Regions from separate parts of the Homo sapiens genome. Here all the other regions are reported to be linked to region 2. The links are microRNA targets in miRTarBase. Many come from high-throughput screens and were not tested one by one. Region 2 holds a microRNA gene; each other region holds the end of a gene's coding sequence.

Region 1 (3,256 bases), not on the chromosome of region 2:
GAAGAGAAGAGAAGAGAAGAGAAGAGAAGAGAAGAGAAAAAGAAAGAAAGAAAATCTGGCCTCAAAAATATTTCAGCCTTCGGGGGTCTGGTTTTTAAGACCAGAAGATCCCTCCCCTCCCTTTTCCCCTCTCCTGACTGAGTCAGAAGACTTGTATCTCTGGAATTTGGGATTATTTGACCAGAATCTTATTGGCATAAACAGAATTTTTAAGTCCAGGACTCTCCAGAGAGAAGTGAGAGACCCTTCTACCCCCTGGGTCCCTGAGCCTTCAATTCTTCATTTTGGGGAATGAAGATACCAATAAAGACGCCCTCTTACCCCGCTGTGACTGGGGTGGCAGGATGTCCACTCAGCAGGCCCATCCTCCAGGCCAATGGCCCACACTATGGGGGCTGGGTAAGCTGACCAATTGCCAAGGTGAAGTGGGGAGTGGACTTTAAACCGTCTGAACAGAAGTTGGAGTGGATGCAAGCGGGCTGAATGACAGTGATGACAATCTTCCTGTGCAGAGGATTGAATGTGAATTTCAGGATGTGGGCTCAGGCTGGTTGCCTACGAGCTCACTTACTTTCCCCTTCCTTTCTCCTCTCCTTCAGGCTTAAGCTTCCTCACCCTCCATTCTTAGCATCCCCCATCTTCAGGCAAGCCCTGCAGACAGGCCAGCCAGTTGCCCTGAGCCTCACACATCCCCACCCGGTTCATTATTCTAGTGCTGGGTGCTGGGTGCTAAGGTCTGGCCACAAGGGGCATGCGGAGATCAGAAGGAATCCCACTATCTCATCCTCAGCCCCAGACCCTGGAAGAAAAAGTCATAGTTGCATAGGGCAGATTCTTTGTCTGGGCCCAGCCCAAGGCTGAGGAGGAGGAGGGTGGATGAGTGAGGAAATCTTTCTTCCCATTGGGATCCTGGCGTCTGGAAACCCACTTTGTTTGGAGCCAAGATTCCCCCAAGGGCATACCTATAGACTCCTTACTCTCTCAACCAATGGACTGCTCCTTTTCTTCCTCCTCTCAACCCCTCACCCCTTTCACCTGCCCTCCCAGGCCAGCATGCTTTCTCAATTCCCAGGCTTCTCTCCACGTGAGTTTCTGAACCCCAAAGCCAGAGCAGTGAAGCAGACCTTTTCCAGAGAGTTGGACAGGGGGATAAGGAGAGAGAAGGTAGAGAATAGGGAAGAGCTGTGGAGAAAAAGCAAGTCATTCCAGCTTCTATTATTTTTCTTCTTCTTTTTATTATTATGACTCACGTATACAATACAAAGTACTTGGACCAGGAACAGGGCTGTCGGGACACAAAATCTACATTCATAGCTGGACATAAAGACAAATGACAAAAAATTATTATTATAGATATATTTTTAACATTTTTTTCTTTCGAGCACATTGCATAAACAGAGAATTCAAGACAGAGTTAACTATACATTCAGTGCAATTTAGTTCTACTCTACTGGGGTTAGAAGCACAATAAAAGCGCACAGGACCGGCGGGCTAGGCAGTCTCAGTTGTTGGGTTTTCTTAGTGAAATAAGCAGCAACAAACGACAACAAAACCGCATTACAAATACTCTCAAAGCAGGATTTCTTTCTATAGGTAGTGATAAAATACGCTGGAGGTTTCTTTCTTTCTTTTTTTTTTTTTTGATTTTTATTTTTTTCTCTTTTTTTCTCCTATAGCAGGATTTTAAAATTTTTCTCTTTTTCTTTTTCAAGATTATTGCAGGTTCCCTTTAGGTAGTATGTTAAAGATTTATTATTATTATTTTCGTGATTATGGTGATTTCTGAGCACTAACACTAATGCAGCTCAGAGGAAGGCGGGCCCAACAGAATAGAAATCAAACAGCGAAGGAGAGGAAGGCATGGGCCCGAGTGACCATGGGATGGTTAGGTAGGATTTTAGAGGCGACTGCAGGCTCCTATCTACCCTTCTGGAAATGGGGGGAGGGGAAAGACCCACATCTCCTTCAGGTTTCCATCAGGTTCCTAGAGAAAGTCAAGGGGGTTTTTCTAAGCAGGGAGCCCTGGGGAGGGGGAGGGGGAGGGGGAGGGGATATTCCTTGCTTTTTTCCTTATTTCTTTACATTTGTCTTCCTTTCCTTTCTTCATTTTTTTCTGTCCTTTCCTTTTTAGAAAAAGTACATCTAGTACACTAGCCTTAGCATAAAAACAAAACCACAAGTCCTTTTCTGCATTTCGAGGGGGCTCCCCTCTAAAATAAATACCAGAGAAGCAGGGAGGTGGGAGTGTGGTGAGAGACAGACCGAGGAGCACGGAGGCCAGGTCTCAGACCTTAAAATCCAGGAAGGACTCAGAAGGGTGGGGGCAGGGACAAGTGTGTGTGGGGCAAGGAGTGAGACAGAGAGTCCGAACTTTTCACTGTTTCTCCGTCTCCCCCCTCCAGCCCCCAAACAAATAAAGAGTGGGGGAAGTCCAAAGGTAATAAAACCAGAGCTGCAAGTATCTGACAGGTAGTTAGAGTTGTGAGTGTCATTCTATTCTCTATAAAAGCAAATGACAGTCGTAAACTTCTCAATTTATCTGCTACCATAAAACGAAACTTCAAGGGAGTTGCTAAGGGGGGGGGGGTCTTTCTTTTTTGCTTAGTCCTTGTTTTCTTCCTTTTCCTCCTCTTCTTTCTCCTCTTCCTCATTTCCTTCTTCCTCCACCTTCTCCTCATCTCGGGCTCCCGGCAGTTTATCCTTGTTGTTCTCCTTTTTCCACTTCATCCTTCGGTTCTGGAACCAGATCTTCACTTGTCTCTCGGTCAGTCCCAGGGCATGAGAGACTTCAATCCGACGTTTTCGTGTCAAATAAGGATTAAAGAGAAACTCCTTTTCTAGTTCCAAGGTCTGATACCGGCTGTAAGTTTGCCGTCCACTGCGCCTCCCCGGAGCTGGACAGAAGAAAACCCCAGTCTGGTTACGTTTGGATGGGGGCTTGGTTTTCCTTTGCCACTCTTCCTACTCTAAACTCCCCTCTCTGATCTCCTCAGTTCGCCTCCCCTCTATGGAAAAGGCTAGAGCAGAAGGCAGACAAGGGCAGAAAAGTTGGGGGATTGTTTTTGTTTGGCTTCACCTTGGGAGGTGGGGTGGGGGTGGGGGCTAGGGTCTGTTTGGAAACTGGGGCCTTTCAGGGGCTGGGGAGCCCTGTAGAATCCCCCCCACCAGGCCTGTAATCCTAGGAACTGGCCTTTGCAGCTTTGTTTACAAGTGCAGCAGGGCATTTAGTGAGCGAGGCTGGGGACAGACTGTTTCC
Region 2 (3,256 bases):
AGAAATGACAAGGCTCAGGAGTTCTTTGCAAAGCAGGCCACGGAACTCCAGAACCAGGCTGAGTGGAAGGATTGGTTTGTCCTGCCCTTCCTGCCATCCCCGGACACCAACCCCACCTTTGCTACCTACTTTTCTCGACAGTGGGCTGACACCTTCATTGTGTCCCTGCACAACTTCCTGAGCGTCCTGTTTCAGTGCATGCATATCCTTTCAGTTGCCTGGGGCTGAAGGCCCAGCCTGAGGCACCCAGACCTCAGGATCAGTAGCCCGCTGGTCTCCATACAGGCATTTCTTCTACAAAAATGCCCAGGGACCATTTTTATGGGTCACATGAGGGGGCTGGACAAATTGTGGTTGTTTTTGTCAGTAAGCCAGGGAATCATAAATCTTAGTTCTGACACTGTGCTGCTGAAGTATTAGCTGACGTGTGGGCAGTGACAGTGGCAGCAGTGGGGTGCTAGTACTGGCTTTGTCAGCAGGCACTGGGGTTGGAAGGCAGCTGCTGCTTGGAGAAACCGGGCAGCCTTGAGAGTACCCTCTCTGTGCATGAAACGTGTTCCCGGGGATATACCTTTGCTGGGATTAGGTACAGATGAGAAGACTTCTTGGGTTGGAACTTCTGTCTGTGTTAGTGTTTGGGTTATTGTCTCTAATAGTAACTTCAGTGTTCCTCAAGTTGCCAGAGAACACAGTAGCTTTAAGAATATATATGCGGGTATTGGAGAGGGGGAATGAATGAGAATGCAGGTAAATAATTTACAGCCTACCAAGTGTACAAGCCAGAGCTCCCAAGGCCATTGTTCATGCTCCCTAGGCTGGAAATTTAGAGGAGGAGAAGGGAGTCTGGCTTGAATGGGGCTGGCTGGTGAGGCACTGATAAACTTGGGTGTTTAGAGGCCCACCCATGGGCAGGCGTTTTGGCCTCTGGGAGGAACACTTTCTGGTGGAGGTGGGAAGGGCACCTTTCCTGCCTTCACCCTTTCTGTGCCCCAGATGAGTGTGAATTCCACCCTTGCCAGAACTGCCTTGTTTCTTCCCCGTTGTTCCCTCTCTTCATCCTGAGGGCTCTCCAGTTAACTTTGTGGGCCCTCCAGTGAAATCGAAACTGTCACTCAAGATCTTTTCAGTGCTTCTCAAACTAGCTTACACACATATGGGCTCTAGTCCCCTCTCCAGTTCTGAGGCCCTGTCTGCTCTGTGCTCCTCCTAACTGAAGCTGCCTGAGGCAGTGGAGAAGGACCAGTATCCCAAGCTATAGACTGTCGTTGTTCTTGGGGTGGCCACGCAATCTGCAGAAAGCTTTCTCTTCTCAGTCCAAACCTTTGCCAGGGAGAGGCTCAACCTGGGGAGGCGAAGCCAACTGACTGGTCTTTTCTGCCTCATTGGCTGTATTACTGCAGAGCCACTGGCCTCCAGGGCTGCTTTTAGCTGAATGTAGTGACCTCACTAAAGCTCAGACTGGCTGTGAAGTCCACTGGATGCTAGCTCTTTGCTTCTGGTATTTGAGAGAAAATGCTTAGGTTTGGATTTATGTCCCCTCTGTGGGCTGGCCAGGCAGATGGTCATGCGTCTGTGAATCTGTCCGAATGAAATGAGGCCAGACCTAGAGAAAGTCTTAGAGACAAGACTGTAGGGAGCGACTATTTCATTAAGCCCGCAAGAGCCCACAGCACCGCTCCTATACTCTGTTCTCTGTGTCCCTGTGTCTCATGTGTTTTACTGGTGTGTCAAGGGTTTGGGAAGGACGTTTAAACATTTCAGGGGCTGGCTTATTCTTTAACTTCGTGCACCAGTCCCTGTGATCCTGAACTTTGATGCGGAGTGTCAGAGGACTAACCAGGTTCAAGAAGAAAATGAAGTTCTGCGTCAGAAGGTTTGTTCTGAACAGGCTTGCTCCTGAGGAAGTACTTCTGCTTTTTGTGTGTGAAATTAGGTAGTGGCAGTGGAACACTATATTAATCAGGTTTCCACTGCCACTACCTAATTTCTCAGATGGAAATGAGTCACCAGAAAGTCAGTATTGGGGATTTGGAGAGTAACAGTCTCTGAAAACCAGAGGCGAGATTCATATTTTAAGTCAGATATGTAGCATGAACAATATAGTAACAGTAATTAACTTTTAAGGAGAAAAAGACTATATGCATCCATGCCACCTTATAACTAACCTGTTTTCATGTGTCTGTTTTGTCTTTCCACGTATAGCTATATATGTGTGTATATATATATACACATATATATGTAAACTATATGTATATATATAAACTATATATACACACACACACATATATATAGTTTATAACCCATATATAATTTAGTTGTTCCTACTCAGCTATATGCTTCTCTAGTTTGATAAAACAATAGAGCCAGGGGACCCACATTTGCCTGTACATGTTGCCTGAGGAACATTTCTCTTTCCTGAAATTAAGATCTCCTTAGGTGATATTGTTAGGAAAAGGAAGATTATAGGCTGTTTAGGTTATGGGGTTTAAGATTCTTGGGATTTGGGGTGTGTGTATATGTAATTTTCTTCAGGCAAAAGGTTAAAAACGCTGTAGTTCATTAACAGGTTTTTTTTTTTTTTCCATTCCAGAGTCAGGCTTTGAGAGTTCTAAAGCCTGATTTTGTAGATTCTAAAAAGCAAAACAGGTTGGGTGGAGCTATTTTTCTCAGTGAATCTAGGAGGAAGCAAGTCAAATGATTAAAAAGAAAATGGGTTTTGGATTTCTAATGGTTTTTGGTTTTCTCACCTCATTGTTGTCCAGTGACAGCAGTCACTTTTCCCAGTCTGCAGTGAGCAGAGTGAGATGGGCCCCTTGACGCTGAGGCGAGTGGCACTCAGACCAGTGGGCTTGGATGCGATGTGTCTAGAAATCTTCCTCCGCAGAGGGAAGGTTAGGTGAGATCATTGGCTAACTCAGTCCCACCCCTGTATAGCTTTTTGCATTGCAAGCTGAAATCCACCGACTGAAGAAAGAGGAGCAACAGCCAGAAGAGGAAGAGGCCTTGGTCCAACACAAATTGCCTCCTTATGTCTCCAACATGGACCGCCTGGGGGACTCGGAACTGTGAGTGTGTGTGACGGCCCTTTCCTTTTCTTTGCCCTCTGTGCTCTCAGCCCCACAGTTCCCTCTGATCTTGCCTTGCCTGCAGTCCTCTGTGCCTGCTGAAGGAGAATTGCGGAAGAGCCTCCTGGCACACACTGCTCTTGCTTGAGAGCTTTATTTTTATTTTTAGAGATGGAGTCTCGCTCTGTCGC
Region 3 (3,239 bases), not on the chromosome of region 2:
GACAGTGAGCGTCGCAGAAACCACAACATCCTGGAGCGCCAGCGCCGCAACGACCTTCGGTCCAGCTTTCTCACGCTCAGGGACCACGTGCCGGAGTTGGTAAAGAATGAGAAGGCCGCCAAGGTGGTCATTTTGAAAAAGGCCACTGAGTATGTCCACTCCCTCCAGGCCGAGGAGCACCAGCTTTTGCTGGAAAAGGAAAAATTGCAGGCAAGACAGCAGCAGTTGCTAAAGAAAATTGAACACGCTCGGACTTGCTAGACGCTTCTCAAAACTGGACAGTCACTGCCACTTTGCACATTTTGATTTTTTTTTTAAACAAACATTGTGTTGACATTAAGAATGTTGGTTTACTTTCAAATCGGTCCCCTGTCGAGTTCGGCTCTGGGTGGGCAGTAGGACCACCAGTGTGGGGTTCTGCTGGGACCTTGGAGAGCCTGCATCCCAGGATGCTGGGTGGCCCTGCAGCCTCCTCCACCTCACCTCCATGACAGCGCTAAACGTTGGTGACGGTTGGGAGCCTCTGGGGCTGTTGAAGTCACCTTGTGTGTTCCAAGTTTCCAAACAACAGAAAGTCATTCCTTCTTTTTAAAATGGTGCTTAAGTTCCAGCAGATGCCACATAAGGGGTTTGCCATTTGATACCCCTGGGGAACATTTCTGTAAATACCATTGACACATCCGCCTTTTGTATACATCCTGGGTAATGAGAGGTGGCTTTTGCGGCCAGTATTAGACTGGAAGTTCATACCTAAGTACTGTAATAATACCTCAATGTTTGAGGAGCATGTTTTGTATACAAATATATTGTTAATCTCTGTTATGTACTGTACTAATTCTTACACTGCCTGTATACTTTAGTATGACGCTGATACATAACTAAATTTGATACTTATATTTTCGTATGAAAATGAGTTGTGAAAGTTTTGAGTAGATATTACTTTATCACTTTTTGAACTAAGAAACTTTTGTAAAGAAATTTACTATATATATATGCCTTTTTCCTAGCCTGTTTCTTCCTGTTAATGTATTTGTTCATGTTTGGTGCATAGAACTGGGTAAATGCAAAGTTCTGTGTTTAATTTCTTCAAAATGTATATATTTAGTGCTGCATCTTATAGCACTTTGAAATACCTCATGTTTATGAAAATAAATAGCTTAAAATTAAATGATGCAACTCAACCTTTTCCTTAATGGCATTACACTCTGTCCCTTAAGGAGCAACCATAAATAATCCATAACCTATAGAGGGAATTTGGTTTCCGTAAATAGCCCTTTTTGCACCTGTACAATCCTGGTTGGGGGGCATGAGTCATTGTCCCCACTTAAGGTGGAGGGAACTGAGTTTGGGGAAATTAAGGCAGTTCTCCAAGATTATGCAGAATAGAGATGTTATTAGCGACTATTGTGTGCATTGTAGCAATGGCATTTGATAATTTACAGAGCACTTCTGTATACTGTGGCTCCTTAGTGGAATTAAGCTGAGACCTCAGATCAGTCCCTTTAAAAGAAAAGTAAAAATAGCCACAGGGTTGTTTAACTCGCTTGTATTGGGCTTTGGTAGTATTCGTCCCATTGGCAGACAGTCTTCTATTTTAAGGTAGAGCATAGTTTGTCTCCAAGAATTCATTGTTAAAAACATTCACTAGGATCTGTGGAGGTTCTAGGCTAAGCAGAGTAAGCAGAATAAACAGATGGAAATGGGTTCCTCCCTTCAATGAACTCAACCTGATTCACCAAAGTGTAATTCACGAGTGACAGTTACGTAGTCCAGAGCAAGTACCAGGTGCAGGAGAGACCCTGGGGTCACAATGGAGACCCCATATGGGTGGCATGGCTCTCTACTTGCCATTCCTATTACACAGCAGTGTCTTGGCTACTTGGGCTGCCCTTTGGAAATGGGATCAATCTTGCAGGCTCCAGAAGACAGAGCCAAGACTTGTGTGTTAAGGAGATAGTTTACCTGTTGGGACATAAGAGCCTTGCTTGTAAGCAGCTTCTCAGAACTAAAAGTGTACAAATAACCTATTTCTCTTTTGAGTGTCAGGTTGTACTCGGTTATTTCTCTAGGGTTTTGTTCATCTCAGATTTTTAACTGTGAGCCGAAAAAAAAGAAAAAGGCCTTTTGCTTCACTGAGAAGAAAGCAGGTCCAGAGATGAGACAGCTTTGCTTGCCTGGACACACAGTTTGTCAGGGGCAGAGATGGGAGACACCAAGCCATGTGTCCTTGTCTGCTTTGGTCATTTTTATTTGTTTCTTTTGAGATGGAGTCTCACTCTGGTGCCCAGGCTAGAGTGCAGTGGTGCAATCTCGGCTCACTGCAACTTCCGCCTCCCGGGTTCAAGCGATTCTCCTGCCTCAGCCTCCTGAGTAGCTGGGACTACAGGTGTGTGCCACCATGCCCGGCTAATTTTTTGCAGTTTTAGTAGAGACCAAGTTTCACCATGTTAGCCAGGATGGTCTCGATCTCCTGACCTTGTGATCCACCTACCTCGACCTCCCAAAGTTCTGGAATTGCAGGCGTGAACCACCATGCCCAGCCGCTTTGGTCATTTTATAAAGGCAAGTAGGAGTTTAGAACTCAGTCCTCCTTATCCTGCTTATCGCACACCCTTGAGATACGAGGTTGGTGATACTACCATGGACATCTTTCTGATGGTCTCGCCATGTAGAAAATAAGATAAAATGCCCTTTAATTCTCCTAGTCCCCATCCCCAGACTAAAAAATAATGCACCCTTTCTTTTTGAATTGTCATTCAAAAAACTTCCGTTCGTTTGCATTTTACAGGCCCCAAATCACTCACGGCCTCTGCCCCTGTGTGTGTGCAAGAGCCAAAAGAAAGTTAAGCAACCTCACATTAATTGTGTACCTAAGATTCTTGAAGCCCAGCTCAGTCATCCCAGTTTCTCTATTTGTGATTACCATAAGGAACCTACCTGAGTGTGTCCAATGAAATGGAATGCTTAACCGTGAAGAAAGAAAACTGTTCATATGAATGAGGCCACTAAACTACAATTCCTACTATGCTCTCTTTTTGCTCGGGCTGCTGGGAAGCTCAGAGCCAAATTCCACCCCCTCTAACATCTCCAGTGGTCATTCTCTTCTAAATGTTTACGGTTTCTTGTTTTCCATTGTTAGGTTAGTCATCTTTTTAATGTATATAATGTAGTATATAACATGAAACGTTTTTGCATTAGGTGGACCACAAATATGCACCTAAAGGATTAAAACTAAAGTG

Evidence for each region. The annotated mature microRNA hsa-miR-6509-5p reads AUUAGGUAGUGGCAGUGGAAC and lies in region 2 at 1,929-1,949, shown strand. An mRNA with a match to its seed (bases 2 to 7 or 8) in the 3' UTR can be bound and repressed. Matches are read on the target gene's strand: a 7mer-m8 pairs with bases 2 to 8, a 7mer-A1 pairs with bases 2 to 7 and ends in A, and an 8mer does both.
Region 1: the mRNA of HOXC8 is a reported target of hsa-miR-6509-5p. Seed matches in the 3' UTR shown: 7mer-m8 at 1,886-1,892 and 8mer at 1,729-1,736.
Region 3: miRTarBase lists MYCN as a target of hsa-miR-6509-5p. Seed matches in the 3' UTR shown: 7mer-m8 at 748-754.

What each region holds. Positions count from the first base shown.
Region 1 is chr12:54,010,727-54,013,982 of GRCh38, reverse strand. HOXC8 (homeobox C8) reads right to left here. Exons shown (of 2, transcript NM_022658.4): 2 at 1,214-2,894. The coding sequence ends at 2,602. Among named protein-coding and RNA genes, the nearest start is that of HOXC8, 3.4 kb to the right of the region's middle.
Region 2 is chr7:135,205,737-135,208,992 of GRCh38, reverse strand. MIR6509 (microRNA 6509) reads left to right here and starts at 1,915; the gene lies at 1,915-1,999. WDR91 (WD repeat domain 91) reads left to right here. Exons shown (of 15, transcript NM_014149.4): 3 at 1-202; 4 at 1,791-1,873; 5 at 2,935-3,065. RefSeq lists an enhancer at 1-134 and a silencer at 1,924-2,083.
Region 3 is chr2:15,945,837-15,949,075 of GRCh38, forward strand. It overlaps MYCN (MYCN proto-oncogene, bHLH transcription factor), which reads left to right. Exons shown (of 3, transcript NM_005378.6): 3 at 1-1,168. The coding sequence ends at 261. Among named protein-coding and RNA genes, the nearest start is that of MYCNOS, 5.8 kb to the left of the region's middle.